Linked DNA regions of Homo sapiens: region 1 is linked to region 2. A link means that fine-mapping ties the variant in region 2 to the expression of a gene that starts in the linked region. Tissue or cell type: hypothalamus. Region 2 holds a variant in brackets; the other region holds the start of a gene. All regions are shown on one strand. Distances are from middle to middle.

Region 1 (8,627 bases), 1.0 Mb after region 2:
CACAGGACCACCTAATGTAAGATTCAAGGCCAGAAGAGCCAAACCAAAAATAGTTTGCTTCTTCAGCAAAAGGGAGACGGGATACAGAGATTAATAGATCTTAAATGGCACAGAAGCAAGAGCATATCCAGAACACCATTGCATTTAGTCAATTACCTTGACTTAGACTGCATTGAGGAACAAAGATTCAAACTTATAATTTCTCTATTTTCTATAATTTGTACCCTAAGACCTCCACCCTGTGTGGAATAACAGGAAGGGACACCATTACCAGGCAAATGAAAATATAACAAGTTAAAGACCCCTACGGAGAAGAAACTAGAAAGGGAAAGGAGAGTGTCTGGAAGGGGTCCCCACCTATGTACACACCCAATCCCTCCAAGCCGAAGCTGCAGAAAATAACCAAACTGCAGAAGACTGCAGGTTTCACTTTGCGTTGGGACTCTCTGGCTCCCAGGGCATTTCTGGAGATGATGAGTTTGTCAACAGTCAGATGTTGAGGAGATTATTTTTTGATGCCTACCCCTAGCCAGGGGTGGGAGATCCTCGATTTTAAATTTGTAATACTGAGCTGGGCACAGTGGTGCACACCTGTATTCCCAGCTACTCAGGAGGCTGAGGCAGGAAGACTGCCTGAGCTCAGGAGTTCAAGGCTGCAGTGAGCTATGATTGCGCTACTGCATGTCAGCCTGGGCAACAGAGCAAGACCTTATCATTCATTCATAAATAAATAAGTGTATGTGTGGTACTGGAAGCTGTCGGAGTAGAAACAACCATAGGTACAAATCTGATTCCCGGTACTGCCACTGCTAGCTGTGTTGTCGCGGATGAGTCACCATCTTCGAGTCTGTTTCCTCTTCTGCAACTGGGCTAACACTAACTCCTCCAAAGGTGTTAAGAATAATGTAAAAACCAACATTTATTAAATGCCTATCATGTGCTTGTTATCTATTCAATCCTCATGAAACAGCCCCATGCATATTATCGTCCCTATTGTACTTACAGGAATGCGATGAGCTAACATATTAAAAGTGCACAACACTGTCCTTGGCACCCAGTGGCCACTCTGTTAAACAGCTGTTGAATCAGACCACTCTCCCCACAGAAGGGATTCATTATTCCAATATCTCTTGGGCGCAAGATTTCAGTGCCCAAATTCCAAGTTTGTATTTGTGTCTACGATCGTATTACGTTGTCATAAGCTAGAGGAAAGAGAAATGACTTAATGCTGAACATAAATGATGCATTCAAGCCAAGAGAAGCCAAATGAAGTCAGACCCATGGCAAATGAAAAGCCTTTTGCAGAGAAAAGCAATAGGAAGACTGCAACATCCCCAGGCATGTGGCATCATAGGCCTGTGGAGCTCCTAAAAACCAGCTCCACAGCAGTCAACCCATAGTGGCATTAAAAGCAGTGACCTAACTTCAAGCCACGCAGCATTCATCTCATTAAATTGTTTAATTGCATAGGGTTTTTTTTTCTTTGCACTTAAACCATCCCTTTATTTGGGATTTATAGGTCTCTGGATATGGGAAAGTTGTCTCTGGCTTCATGTTTTTATATTTGAGTAACATTGTAATAAAAACTATATTCACACTATGGGCTCATGGGAAGTTTTGCGGGTTTTATTTTCCTCCCTTTAAGAAGGATCTACTAAAGTCTGACAAGTACTGTTCCATGCTACCCACATCCAAGGTGCTACCTCTTAAAGCGGCCGCCATTAGAAATCGCTGGGAGCAGAATGTAGAAAAAACAAACAAACAAACAAACAAACAAAAAAACCACCTCCGGGGCCAGACACTCAAATCCACTAACCTGGGCAGTTTAGGAAATGGGGCACTAAGACTCCAGGGGCATTTTCCCAGCCTACCTTCTTAGCTCCTCCCCAGGCAACTCGGTCTAATAAAACAGTCCCCAAGGGCCTAAAATGCCTCACCCACACTTCCATGAATGCCCTTGGGCTGTTTGGAGTAGGCTAAGAACAGGGGCTGCAGGAAAAATCGAATCTAGGAAACGGAGGAAGAGCAAAGGGAAAGGAAGCACAGGAAAGTGCTCAGCCCCATGAACTTGTAGCAAGGTACACCGGGAGAACACCAAATCTGAAACGCAGAGAGACCTAGGGTCTGGGGGGCAGGGAACCCTCCTTCTTAGGTAGATACTCCAAGAGAAGGAAAAGACCCTCTTGTCCAGCCCCTCCCTCCAGGCAGTAAATTAACTCCCAGAAAAAAAAAGCCCCTTTCCCCGATGGCTGAACAAGACCCGTCATTTTTAGCCTCTCCGCAGGCTGTTAACTCACTTCTGAACTCTGGTCTTTCTCCAGCTCTCTCCTCCCAGGCTGTGGGTCAAGGGACAGAGCCAGCATTCCTGAGCAACAAAACTGTTAAATGGGGGGTGCACAGAGACAAAGGAAAGGCTAATTTCCAACAACACCTGGCATGGTGCCTGGCATACAGTAGGCACTCAATAAACATGTGTACCTGATGAAACGACAGGACTCTGGAAAAAAAGAAAACAGGCAGCGGCTAGTTTAATGGGCTGCACAGTTGGCCCTCACTGCATCTGTAGGAGCTGTAAAAACCCCTAGAATCTCCTCTAAGGAGGAATCATTCCCTTCAGCCCAAAGTAATCTCAAAATCCAATTGTGCCTGACACTACCTGCCTTAGGCAATCCAAGAGGAGAGCTTCAAAAACTCAGAACTATTTCTCCAGGGTGTGCAGGGAAAGGTGGGAAGTAAGAGGGCTCTGGCTTCATCAGAGCAGAGAAGAGGTTAAAGACAGAGAACTGGCTTTTCCAGCAGGTAAGAAAGACACCTGGTCCCAGAGTGGCTGGGTTCATCCCTCCAACAATGAACACCTGAGGCTTCACTACAGAGCTCAAAGCATGTGAGACTGGGTGTCTGGCACCCAGGATTGAAACTGGCGTGTTGCCATTCATCACAGACTCCTGTTCAAGAAATCGAGTGTGGAAAGAGAACTGGAGGTCGGTGGCCTTCCATCAGCCTTTGGCTATGGCGTAGCCCATTCAGCGCAGGGCCCACCAGCACCCTCATCTCCAGGGATGTGCTGGGACTTTGGGTACCCTAGACACTTTTGCCTTCATAAACCCCTTCCTCCATTTACAAATAAGTAAATTTGTATATTACAACTGCATTGGTATAAAGATGACTATATCAATGTGATTTATCAAAATGGATTCTTTGACCAAAAGTTTTTAAAATTCAGATTATGAAATTGGAACATTTTCTGTGGGCCCCCAAAAGCAGCGGGGGCCGTCAGCACTGTGTCCGCTGGGCCTGCTCAGTGAGGCGCTAAGGGCAGAAGGAAGTGGGGAGAACGGGAGACCTTGCGGGTGTTCTTCCCGCACATCAAGGGGGTGTGCCAGGCCCGAAACGAGGTCTGTCCTAGCCCCACTAGGGCGAGCCTGAGCACCTGAAGCTCACCCCCTGCAGACGCAGCCCCCTGAGGCGGGGACAGGGGTGTCTAGGCCCTGGGGAGCCTCTGTGCCCCGCTGTCCCTCCCCACGCGGACTGCGCCCCGGGCGGAGGCGGGGCTGGCCGGGACTTACTTGAGTTCCACGCACCACGAGCCCGGCCATGGCGGCCAGGACGCTGCGGGCGCGCGGGACGGAGCGCGGGGGCGCGGCGGCAGCAGCGGGGAGCGCGGCAGGGGAGCGCGGCGGGCGCACAGTTCCGCACTGGGCAGTCAGCTGACCCGGCGGAAGCCGGAGGCGCGGGCTAGCCTCGGGGACCTCAGCTCCGCCGCTCGCCGCCGCCGCCCCTCGGCCCGGTCTCCGCGCAGGTGAGCCCTGGCCGCCCGCTGCAACAGGTGGCCCGCAGCGCCCCGCGCCCCGACGGCGGCCTGACCCCGACTGCCCGCGCCCCTCCCTCCCCCGGATGTCCCAATGCCCAAAACTCCATGCCCACAGCTTTATCGCGTTTGTCTGGGCCACGCCTGAGGTGGGGGTATTCCTATCAGGGGCGCCCTTTCTGAGCCGTTAGCCGGGCTGTAGCCAGCCGGGCCTTTCCTGCATTTCGCAAGCTGGGTTACATAATGGACCTCAACTGCAGCGAGGAGGGGCCTCTTGGCTGAACGCCCCTCCTCATCAAAGCTGGGGAGAGGGAAAGTTAGAAGGTTGAAGGACTCCTGGTGCGGCCCAGTTTCCATTTGTAGGAGGGGAGGGGGATTGGGGGGGTTGAATTTCCCTATAAATAAAACGCTGGCTTGGTGAAGACCACCCCACCCTTTCCCTGTGGCCTCTAAGAGTTGACAATAATAAACCCTGGGGAAGGATAATTGGCTGGTGACCCCAAATTTCAGGCTTCTCTTCTCCTGCTCCTCAGAGGGCAAGAGATTTGTGAGGCTTGAAGTTATCAGTGGGGTTATTCGCTGTTCCCCACCCACCCCATCCCCACCTGGAAGAGCTGGCCACGGGCCTCCTGTCTGGATGAAAGTAGGCCCAGTGGGCAGGTAACTCCCTAAACCCATGCCTGTTTTTCTCTGAAATTCTCTGGAAGGATCCAGATTTTCTCCTTGCCTATTCTTGCCTCCAAGTCCAGGATGCACAGAGCTACCAGATATCAACTGGTTGTCATCTTCCACTCTTGCTGCAGCTAAGAGCCAGCCCAGCCTTAACTGGCATCGTCTCTCAGACAGCCCCGGTCCTAACACATTGTTAGGTGGGCCCTTGTCAGCATTTTGATGAGCAGTGTTGATCTCGGAGGGTTGACCTTCCTGCCCCTCTCTCAGCTGGGAGGAGCAGGCTCAGAAGAGTAGAGCAGTAAGAATGCAGTCTTGACTGTGTTTACTTTGGGGGATTCCAGGAAATGCTGCAACAAAAGGTCCTGCAGGCCAAAAAAGAAAGCTTACCCTCCAGAGATAAGGGGATCAAAGGGAACCTTCCCAGGCCTGTTGCCCCAAGGACCAGCTCCCCCGCCTTCTCCCTCCTTCTCTGCTGGACGCGCCCTCTCTGGTCCATTGTGCACTTTTGTCTGCTTTTCCTGCCTGAAAAGGAGGAAGTGAGCCCGGACCCAGCCAGCACTCTGCCCTCCGCAGCTGCCTTTCAGCTCAGCTTTCCTAGAAGGGCTTTGACAGATGGAAGAGGACTTGTGGAAACAGGCCCAAGCTGACTCAAAGATGAGATTGGAGAACGGCTCTCCCTTCCCCCACCAGAAGGGGGTTACTGAAGGTCATCTCATCCATCCCCCTGCCTCCATACACAGCTGGGTCATCTGAGCATAGGCTGTTCTGCAGACACTACCAATGTCACCAAAGTGGGCTGGCATCTTTCCCCCTTTCCACACCCTCTCACTACTGTTGCCTCCTCCACATAGCCCCAGGGCAACCATTTTAAAAGCCCAATTAGATCCTACCTAAAATCTTTCAATGGCTCCTAATCAAGTAATAATTAATACAGTCCAGAATCTTTAGTATGTCCCTGAAGATCTCTTATAATCCCATCAATTCTTACCTCTTCAGCCACCTGTCCCAGCTCTCCCGTCCTCTGGCTTCACAGAAGCTGTTAGTTTCAGCTGGAAATGCTTCCCCACCTACTGCTGTCTCTGCTTGGTGAACACATCAAGAAGGCCAGTTGATGGTGTGGGGAAGGATCATGTGCAGAAATCACAAAAATTAAGATCAGGATAGCTCTGTTGGAGGGGGGCTTTAGTGTTGGAACTGTAAACTGATAACAATAGGGAGCTATTGAAAGTTCTTGAGCAAAGTAGTTGTCTTAGTCTACTAGGACTGCTGTAACAAAATGCCATAAACTGGGTGCTTATAAACAATAGAAATTTATTTTTCACAGTTCTGGAGGCTGGGAAGCTGAAGATCATGGCACCCACGATTTGGTGTGTGGTGAGGGCCCATTTTCTGGTTCCCAGACAACGGCCTTCTTCCTGTGTCCTCAAATGGTAGGAGGGACAAGCTAGCTCCTGTGGGCCTCATTTGTAACAGCACTAATCCCATTCCTGAGGGCTCCACGCCAATGATCTAATCACCCCCCACAAGGCTCCACCTAAGACCTTGGAGGTTATGATTTCAACATATGAATTTGGGAGGGACACAAATGTTCAGACCGTAGCAGAAGTAATTTCCTGAATGTTGTTGGGGGAGGACACCAGCAGAAACAAACTGGATTCACCTGTCCTTACTCCTCAGCTTTTGGAGTTAGTCTTCAGAATAGAAGAACAAGGAGAAGGAGGAGGGGAAAGGAGAATAGAAGGAACAGAAGGAGGAAGGGGGGAAGGGAGAAAGGTAAAAGGAAAAGAAAAAGAATCTGTGTCCCTGGACCAAGGAAGATTGGAAGCCGGGAGGGGGAACATCCTTCTACCTCCTTATCACTGTTGCCAACAAAAAGGAAGATTAAACAGAAATAGTAAAGTTCCTCCATAATGTAGCCCTCCCTCGGGGAGGGGAGAGAGCAAAAAACAAAACAAAACAAAAAAAACACTGAGATAAGACTGACCTAGGAGTTAGACAAATAATTCCTCCGGAATACAAAGACTTTACAAGGGTGAACATAGCAGACGAGTCCTGTAGGGGCTTCGTCCTGAACACAGCTCTTTCTGCCCCAGCCCCAGGAGCACTGAGGTAAAATATGGGCTCATGCAGTCACGGTCCTCTCACCCCACTCCATGACTCATTGAAAGTGAGCTGCTAGCTTCCTATCCTGCCCATCTTACTTCACAGCCGCTGTGCCCCAGCTTCTGGCCTTGTGCTAGGCACTAGGGACATCCCTGACTAATACTGTTCAGGAGAGACGCTCAGACTTGTGCACAGACATTCACAGCACTGTGTCAGCAAGAAGTGCTGTCATTGTGATCCTGTTTTCTGAACCCCAAATTGAAGCACGTAGCCCAGCTTGTACAAGTGCACTCAGGAGGACCACAAAACAGAAAGTTCAAATCCAACCTATGCTGACCACCCTGAGCCTGTGAATTCTGGAGCTCTGACGGGCACATAGAGAGCAACAAGGTTCAACTCATACAACTGGACATTCTCTTATCGCCCTTGATGAAGAGGGCAATATTTTATTCCTATTGTCATCATTGTTATTATTATTCTGCTTTGGCAGAAGAGGCCCTTTGCCTTAGAGTCCTTCCTCCATCACATTCCTGGGGACAAAAAGGAAGATCCTGTTTATTTCCAATCAAGGGAGTTGATTCTGGGGTCGGCCAGAACCAGTGAAACAGGAACTGATTCCTTAAATCTTCCAACTGTGCATTAGCAGCTGAGAGAAGAACAGGGCCAGTTAACCAAGTTTTGTTAGCATTCCTAACTATCCTTAGCTGTATTTCTCTTCAGCCTGGCCTCATTTCTTTCAGGCCCAGCCCCCGGGCAGGTTAAGATGGTTGCTGTAATTAATCATGCCGTGGGCCCTAATTCAGACTCACCACATTCAAATTTCAATTTAAAAAAAAAAAGGCGGGGTGTCTACTTAAGAAATGCTCCGCTTATGAAATGCTCTTTGTTGCCGAAGCAGCCCCCTTTCAGCCTAAAGGAGAAAGTCTAGGAAGTGCAGGAAAGAAGAAAGGTTTCCAGGGCCCTCTTCAAAGTACTTGCACATATGTGAGGGGACTGAGGATGATCTGTGCTCCAAAGCCCCTCCAGTATTTCCCAATCAGAACAAACTGAATTTTTAAAAATATATATTAAATACCATCATAATATCTAGGATGAGTGTTCATTCCACAAATGTTAATTTATTATTCTCAGTGCCTCTAGTTTTCCTTCTCTTTTTTTTTATTTTTATTTTTTTGAGACAGGGTCCCAGGCTGGAGGGTAGTGGCGCAATCATAGCTCACCACAGCCTCGACCCCAGGGCTCAGGTGATCCTCCTGCCTCACCCTCCCAAGTAGCTGGGACTACAGGCACTCACCACCACACCTGGCTAATTTTTTTGTATTTTTTGTAGAGATGGGATTTTGTCATGTTGGCCAGGCTGGTCTTGAATTCCTGGGGTCAAGCGACCTACCCACCTCAGCCTCCCAAAGTACTGGGGTTATGGGCATGAGTCACCGCACATGGCTGTTTTCCTTCTCTTTAGGTCTTAAAAGGTTTTGTCATTATTTCTCTGTGAAAATGCAAACAATAGGACTGAGCATGGTGGCTCATACCTGTAATCTAGCACTGAGACCAGCCTGGGCAACATAGTAAGATTCTCTTGCTAGAAAAATAAAAATAAAGTAAAATGCAAACATTAGTTGGCTGTGGAGAATGGAGTGGGTTTGAGGAAGGTGGGAGTGGGAAAGGAGCTTCTGCTTTTCACTCCATTTCTTCTGTGGTTTTGGTAACATGCGTATACTACTTTTATAATTAAAAACAAAAAAGGAGGAGATTGGCACAGAATAGAGAATTTACCATGAAAACTACTATCTGCTAATCTCTTAGTACTATTTTAACAAATCCTGAAAACAGCAATGAGAAACAAATCTTATTTCCCATTTTACCTGGAACTCGCCGCAACTCCAAGTCCTTGGCTGGGCATGGGAGGCAAGTCATCGCTGACTTGGAGGAGGGGGGCTCACGTTGGACCTTCAAGAGGGAAAGAGAACCCACCCAACTGTCTATTTCCAGTGGGAGCACCTTTCCAGAATCCCAGCTTGACTTGGAGAGGTTCTGCCACTTG
Region 2 (8,627 bases):
AGAAGAAGCCTAAGCGTCAACCATGCATTTGGATTTGGGAATTTGTCAAAGGTGTGGGAATTTGTCAAAGGTGAGAGACTGAATTTCCACCTTGACATGCAAATGCATTCTTATTTCCTATGCTGTCGCCCAAGTCACCCTGGTTACATCAGTGTTCAGCTGAGTCAGAGCATTTGGATGGGCTCACTCTAAGAGGGTTAGAATTTGATCCCATGACAAATAAGAATGGTTACCTGGCACTGCAGGTGAAGAACAGGCTGGAGCAATCTCAGGGCTGGGGCTAGAGGAAAACACAAACCAGCAACATGATCCATGGCTTCAGTCAATACTCAGGAAAGCCTATTTCTGTTTCCCCAGTGCGTTCCTGAGAGCAGTGTTGATTACCAGATAACCAGAGTCTTTGGTCTTTCACAGAATCAACAGCTTGGCAGCCACAAAGTGACAGGCATCAATACTAATCGCACAAGCCTGTCTGTAGCTGGACCCCAGGACAGGCCGTGCTCCACCTGCCTGTCCAAGAAATGCACGCCAGGTCCTCCCCATGGAAACCACTAACAACACTTATTAGCTGTTTCCTTGCCTGCTAAGTGGTCTGTGCCTCGTTCTGGCTCCCATTATTATATTCATTTCAGCCTGTGTCCTGAAACCTGATACCTTTGTACTTGGGGGGTGTGGTGTCTGCCACCTGACAATGATTTGACATGACACAGTGACAGAAAACAAGGAGACAGGATGGAAATAAAAGAATAAGAAATCCAAGCAGCTACACTGGCGGCTCCAGGCAGGGGTGCCCATTAACACAGATACCTGTGAGAAGGAACACAGGCCCCACTGCCACCCTGGCCAGATCACTTAATTCAGCTGCACTGGACTGGGAGACAGCAATCTTCCTTTGCTGAACAAGGCCCCATGCAACATTATAGTGGGTTCTTCACTTATACTTCTGAGTTCAATGTGGCTCCACTTCTGCCCATTCCCTCCCCTCCCAATTCATCCGCCAGCAGTCCATTCTGTCCTTCTTCCTGGGCCTCTGTGCTGATAATCACAGCTGCCATTAGGGTGGTGGCACTGGTGGCACACATGGCCACCACATGCTAGTGCTATAGTCATTCAAGAGACCAGCTAGGGCATGTGGGGAGGGGGCAATGAGGTGAGCCCTCGGCCCGTGGAAGCCACTATGCAGACACAATACTGGAAACAGTGGGGTTTCCAAAGAGCAATTTCAAGGCTAGGGTCCATGACTAACTGGCAGTGACATGAGCCAGTGATAAGCCTATTCTGCGCCTCATCTGTAAAATGAACAAGATGGACTAGATCACTGATGCTTGAACCTTCTGTTGTTACATTAGACAATAAAATTTTTTCATTAAATGATATTTTCCTTTAGACCCCAGTGTATTGAATGGATAAAAATGGATTTGGAAGCCAGCTTTGGGAGCCCTGTTAGCTCCACCCTGATGGGTCACCACTTGTTCCCCCTGCACCTCTGACAAGTCTCATTGGAATGCTAGAATTCCGCATAGCTCAGTGTGAAAGGCATGGGGCCAGATCATCTCAAAGTTCCCTTCTAGGCCAAATGTTGCTTTGGGTGAGGCATGGGAGACAGAGAAATTGTAGGGAAGGTTTGGGGATTTGCACCGTGTTAGAATGATCTTTCCTCTAGCATTTTATGTTCTCTTTTTGTCATCAACAGCCCTACAGCTCAGGGCTCTGTGGAGATCTATGGCAAGACAGAGCCAGTAAAGGAGCACCACACCAGCAGCACCCCCAGGCCCACACCCACGACATTTCAGAAAGTTCAGCTTTCACTTTTATACACACTGGAACTAAAATACAGGGAAAGAAGTCAAGGGAAAGTTTGGAGATAATCAGCCAGGACTCAAGTTTTACAAAGGGAAATTAAGCACCAGTACACTTGCTATATTTAGGATCTGTATTAGTCCATTTTCACACTGCTGATAAAGACATACCTGAGACTGGACAATTTACAAAATAAAGAGGTTTATTGGACTTACAGTTTCACGTGGCTGGGGAGGCCTCACAATCATGGCAGAAGGTGAAAGGCATGTCTCACATGGCAGCAGACAAGAGAAGGGAGCTTGTACAGGGAAATTCCCGTTTTTTAAAGCCATAAAATCTTGTGAAACTTATTCGCTATCATGTGAACAGCACGGGAGACCACCCCCATTATTCAATTACCTCCCACCAGGTTCCTCCCACAACATGTGGGAATTCAAGTTGAGAATTAGGTGGGGACACAACCAAACCATATCAGGATCTATCATCTCTTTATCATCCACAGCACCACCACCATCACCAATGACAACGAATCCAGCATAGGTCTAAGTTATCATCCACTGGGATAATAACAACAGGCAGCACTGATTATACTCTTATTATTGGTTATTATGAGGATGTTACATTTATAACTGCCCTAGAGCAAGGCACCATTATTGTCACTTTTAAAAATGAGAAAACTGAGCTACATACAGGAGACTAGTGACTTTCTCAAGCCCCAGAATTTGCAAGTAGTAGAGAAGTGATTTGAACTTATGCAGTCTAACTCTGAAGTCTGTGCTTTTAACACTGTCGTCACCCAGGGAAGCAGGCTGATGTGAGGAGAGAACTGAGCTGTAGGAGGGCTCACACAAACTGTGCAGTCAGCAAAGTTGCTTTTCAACAGCAAAAAGCTCCTAGTTATGGGCCCGTTCGCATCCATGCTCCTCTCTGCATCAGCCCGCCTCAAACACGTAAATTCACTCCCCAAGCACCTAGTTATTATCTTGCTTGTTCTCTACTTAAAGCATTCAGAAAATATTTAGATCTTTTTTTTCCACCCAGATGTAAATAACTGATAATAGGTTAATCTGCTTCTTCCTCCCAGGGAGAGACATATTTTTCACCAGAAACCAAAGCCTTGAACTGTAGAGATAAAGCTCCACTTGTAAAATTTCAATGTCAGCATAGAATAAGGATTATGAATTCTTGAAATCATCAGAGTCTTCCTAGTGTCCCTGAAGTCTATTAGGTGGTTTTTAATTCATTAGGAAAAAACTATCCAGATGGAGAAATGGATATAATCTCTACTCCAGATACTATTCAATGGAAAAAATACTCAGAAAGCTTTGGCCTTGAATTTGTGGAGGCAGAGGAGGGGGTTGTGGGACAATTAGGAGGTTGAAATCACTCACTGACCCTATCTGAAACTCTATATTCTATACTGCCACCCTTGGACCACCCTTGGGTTAACATTTCCTCTGAACATTCTAGCTCCCTTAGGTTATTTATTTACTTACATTTGATATTTTCTTTTACAGAGCAGAGAAAATGGAAGGAAAACAATATTCCTATCCCTAAAAACACTCACTGTGGTTCCCTAGGAGGAAACAGTAGAGCTCCAGGAGACAAAAATCCAGCTCTCAATTCCCTCCTGCCTGCCTGGAGAAATCACTCAGCACCCGTAATGAGAGGATGCAGTGGCTAATTTTGTACCATAAATCACAAGGTTAATACTATGACTAAAAAGTGATACCATCAGCTCCTTTCCTTCAAGGCTGTTAGATCTTAGTCAATTACTTATGAACAAAGATTTAAAGACTTCAGAAGCCCCTCTGCCAACAAAAGATGCTTTTACTGTTAGCTTTCTTTCCCCTTGAAAAGATTCTTGAACTCCTCTGGAAGGGGCTCCAGTGTGTTCTCAGCATTTATAGGAAGAGGTTTGCAAGGGAGCAGCAATTAACAATGCCAGGCTAATAAAAATCCTGGAGCCTCAGTATCTTCTGAATGATACTGCCGACACTCCTAAGGTAGCCTAATACGAGAGGAGAAAACACACAGAGATGGGGGAAAATATACCTTGTTTCCGACATATTTCTCAAGCTGTTTAAATATGAAACAAAATCCTACCAGGCTACAAGTTTCCAGCTGTTATGATATCATAAGATAAATTTACAGCTAGAGAAACAGCATGTTTGCTTTTATAAAGTATGGAAATATAAATGTTCCAAGTGTTAAAACTGTCCAAACAAATTAATTCAAGTAAAAATAGTTGTCTCGGATCTGGTTCTCTCACATTTGCTTTCTTTTTATAGAGCTCACCAGCACACTTCTCTCAACGCAGAGAGGAGAGGAAGTGCAATTCCATCTCGGCAGGCGCCTTTTCTGCATTTGGAAACCCAAGGAGCCCTACAGCAGGGAAGCTGGGTGGCCCCTGCCCAGGCCCCCA[T/C]GGCTGATCTATTAATTAAAATCTTAATTTAGCCTCTTTGCAACAGAAGAAAGACACTGTGAAAGGGGACTGAGGCTAAAAATCTTACGATGTGCTCCCATTTGGGGATGTTCATTGTAGCTACAATGAAAAAAGAGTTTCTTTCCTCAGTGACTTTGAAAAGAATAGAGTGGTGATTAACAGCAATTTTTTTTTTAATGAAACGCAACCCGTCATCCCTGTCATCTTCTGGCCATCCTCGCTTGTACGCGCCTCCCTGACAAGAGGAATAATAATCATCATACATCACTGCTCTCCACGTCCAATCACCTAAATCTTCCCTCGCTGCAGCCTCTGAGACTCAATTACTTTATTGACATGCAATCTTCATAAGGGGAGAAATATTGTGCATGTAAGGTCACTTGGTTATGAAGACATATTATCATATTATCTGCATGAGGGTTGCAGGGCTAAGACCTGACAGAGCTAATTATAATGGTACATGATAGAAAGCTCAGTACACATTATTCGCATGGCTGCACTAAAGGTGAGCTAAGTCCATGACATCATGAGTTTTTGAGAAAATAATGCAACATTGGCTTGGCGGCTGTAACTTTTTTTTTTTTGTTAATTCTCCAACATTTTTACTTTGGGGTTTTTCATGCATGATGAAATAACTAGTTAAGGGATTCCTCCTATCTTGAAAAAGGCAGTGGCATGCCAGTGTGGGGAATGTGTGTGTGTGTGTGTTTGTGTGTGTGTGTGTGTATAATTGGCAGGGTTATTTCCTCATCTAACAGCAAGGTTTCAGTCCACTTCTCAGCAACTGAAATGACAATGACTCAAAGGAGAAAGGCAAATGGATACAAATTGGTCAACATGATAACAGAGTAAAACTTCTTTACCTCACCCTCAATTAACCCCTTCTCAAATCCTTCCCCTTTCTTTCTCTTGCTTTGCCTGGCAGAGCCTTAAGTTGCTGGGATTTAGCAGTCCTGAATATGGTTTCTTTGTTCAGATATACAGTTATTTGAGCTTTTGCCAGCAGCCACGTGCTAGAAGTTCCATGCCTTGCTAAGATGCACAGCTAGTGAGTCATTCTCTTTTTTGCATCCTCAGCCGGTTTACCCTCCTCATTCACCCCCACTGTATCTCATAGGGAGAGGCCAAGATGCTGAGCTCCAGTGGCAATCTCACAAGAAAGGAGTATCCAAGAAAAAAGTCTAGGCCAAGTCTCTGTGTTTTCTGGTCTTGGCACAGTTAATGTGGGGCCTGGAAGGAAAACTGGATCGATGGATCTATGATGGGTCTATAGCTCATGAAGTTAAATGATGAAATTAACTTCATCATGAAGTTAAAAGATGAAATTAACTTCATCATGAAGTTAAAGCCATGTCAATCTCCACAGATGGGCCTGAGCCAGCATCAAGGATGAAGGTCTGGACACCTAGTCTACTTAACAGGGGTTTATGAGCTTTCAAAAACAAGTAAAGGAACCATTCAAAATATCACTACAATCCAAGACAGGCTGGCTCCTCCTAGATATGCTCTCTCTCTCTCAATGAAGAACTAATTCAATAAAGTAGAAGAAAGCACTAAAGACTTCTAAACTCCAGAAACTGATTTAGTCTTGTAGCATGAGTGTTTTGGCTCAGCCACAAGAAGTAGTGAGCATAATAAGAAATTAAGGTTGTCCAAAGCCTGGCAGAGACACAACAAAAAAAAAGAGAATTTTAGACCAATATCCCTGATGAACATTGATGCAAAAATCCTCAATAAAATACTGGCAAACCGAATCCAGGAGCACATCAAAAAGCGTATCCACCATGATCAACTGGGCTTCATCCCTGGGATGCAAGGCTGGTTCAACATATGCAAATCAATAGACATAATCCAGCATATAAACAGAACCAAAGACAAACACCACATGATTATCTCAATAGATGCAGAAAAGGCCTTTGACAAAATTCAACAGTCCTTCATACTAAAAACTCTCAATAAATTAGGTATTGATGGGACTTATCTCAAAATAATAAGAGCTATTTATGACAAACCCACAGCCAATATCATACTGAATGGGCAAAAACTGGAAGCATTCCCTTTGAAAACGGGCACAAGACAGGGATGCCCTCTCTCACCACTCCTATTCAACATAGTGTTGGAGGTTCTGGCCAGGGCAATCAGGCAGGAGAAGGAAATAAAGGGCATTCAATTAGGAAAAGAGGAAGTCTAATTGTCCCTGTTTGCAGATGACATCATTGTATATCTAGAAAACCCCATCGTCTCAGCCCAAAATCTCATTAAGCTGATAAGCAACTTCAGCAAAGTCTCAAGATACAAAATCAATGTGCAAAAATCACAAGCATTCTTATACACCAATAACAGACAAACAGAGAGCCAAATCATGAGTGAACTCCCATTCACAATTGCTTCAAAGAGAATAAAATACCTAGGAATCCAACTTACAAGGGATGTGAAGGACCTCTTCAAGGAGAACTACAAACCACTGCTCAATGAAATAAAAGAGGATACAAACAAATGGAAGAATATTCCATGCTCATGGATAGGAAGAATAAAATTGTGAAAATGGCCATACTGCCCAAGGTAATTTATAAATTCAATGCCATCCCCATCAAGCTACCAATGACTTTCTTCACAGAATTGGAAAAAACTACTTTAAAGTTCATATGGAACCAAAAAAGAGTCCGCATCGCCAAGTCAATCCTAAGCCAAAAGAACAAAGCAGGAGGCATCAGGCTACCTGACTTCAAACTATACTACAAGGCTACAGTAACCAAAACAGCATGGTACTGGTACCAAAACAGAGACACAGACCAATGGAACAGAACACAGCCCTCAGAAATAATACCACACATCTACAACTCTCTGATCTTTGACAAACCTGACAAAAAACAAGAAATGGGGAAAGGATTCCCTATTTAACAAATGGTCCTGGGAAAACTGGCTAGCCATATGTAGAAAGCTGAAACTAGATCCCTTCCTTACACCTTATGCAAAAATTAATTCAAGATGGATTAAAGACTTAAATGTTAGACCTAAAACCATAAAAACCCTAGAAGAAAACCCAGGTAATACCATTCAGGACATAGGTATGGCCAAGGACTTCATGTCTAAAACACCAAAAGCAATGGCAACAAAAGCCAAAATTGACAAATGGGATCTAATTAAACTCAAGAGCTTCTGCACAGCAAAACAAACTACCATCAGAGTGAACAGGCAACCTACAGAATGGGAGAAAATTTTTGCAATCTACTCATCTGACAAAGGGCTAATATCCAGAATCTACAATGAACTCCAACAAATTTACAAGAAAAAAACAAACAACTCCATCAAAAAGTGGGTGAAGGATATGAACAGACACTTCTCAAAAGAAGACATTTATGCAGCCAACAGACACATGAAAAAATGCTCATCATCACTGGCCATCAGAGAAATGCAAATCAAAACCACAATGAGATATCATCTCACACCAGTTAGAATAGCGATCATTAAAAAGTCAGGAAACAACAGGTGCTGGAGAGGATGTGGAGAAATAGGAACACTTTAAACTGTTGATGGGACTGAAAACTAGTTCAACCATTGTGGAAGTCAGTGTGGTGATTCTGCAGGGATCTAGAACTAGAAATACCATTTGACCCAGCCATCCCATTACTGGCTATATACCCAAAGGAATATAAATCATGCTGCTATAAAGACACATGCACACGTATGTTTATTTGCGGCACTACTCACAATAGCAAAGACTTGGAACCAACCCAAATGTCCAACAATGATAGACTGGATTAAGAAAACGTGGCACATATACACCATGGAATACTATGCAGCCATAAAAATGATGAGTTCATGTCCTTTGTAGGGACATGGATGAAGCTGGAAACCATCATTCTCAGCAAAATATCACAAGGACAAAAAACCAAACACTGCATGTTCTCACTCATAGGTGGGAACTGAACAATGAGAACACTTGGACACAGGAAGGGGAACATCACACACCAGCGCCCGTTGTGGGGTGGAGGGAGGGGGAAGGGATAGCATTAGGAGATACACCTAATGTAAATGACAAGTTAATGGGTGCAGCACACCAACATGACACATGTATACATATGTAACAAACTTGAACATTGTGCACATGTACCCTAGAACTTAAAGTATAATAAAAAATATATATGAAAAATAAATAAATAAATAAAATAATAATTATTATTAGTAAGTTATAGCTTTTGCATGCCAAGTACTGCCTACAAATAACCTTTCTTCCTTATAATCCTTCAAGGTAGATTTTATCTCCATTTTAAAAGTTAAGAAATTGAGACGCAGAGGTTAAGCAACTTGGCCAAGTCCACACAATCAATAAATGACTGAGTTGGGATTTGAACTTGAGTCTGTCTCATGACAATGGTTA

Which allele goes with the higher level. Alleles are on the strand shown, and positions count from the first base shown. SD is a standard deviation of normalised expression in the study named.
In carriers of allele T in region 2, the expression in hypothalamus of the gene that starts at base 3,697 in region 1 tends to be higher than with C alone (moderate effect, 0.40 SD a copy in GTEx).

What was found.
Region 1: it holds the start of LRMDA, and the variant in region 2 is fine-mapped to the expression of LRMDA in hypothalamus (GTEx, PIP 0.92).

Annotation. Positions count from the first base shown.
Region 1 is chr10:75,426,694-75,435,320 of GRCh38, reverse strand. It overlaps LRMDA (leucine rich melanocyte differentiation associated), which reads right to left and starts at 3,697. Exons shown (of 7, transcript NM_001305581.2): 1 at 3,567-3,697. The coding sequence starts at 3,596. It overlaps LOC107984293 (a long non-coding RNA gene), which reads left to right and starts at 3,711. Exons shown (of 2, transcript XR_001747703.2): 1 at 3,711-3,799; 2 at 5,011-8,627. RefSeq lists enhancers at 2,888-3,388, 3,389-3,889 and a silencer at 3,648-3,747.
Region 2 is chr10:76,425,369-76,433,995 of GRCh38, reverse strand. The region is part of intron 6 of LRMDA (leucine rich melanocyte differentiation associated); the gene reads right to left. Among named protein-coding and RNA genes, the nearest start is that of KCNMA1-AS1, 460 kb to the left of the region's middle. RefSeq lists an enhancer at 186-883. The variant T/C (reference allele first, on the strand shown) is at 4,226.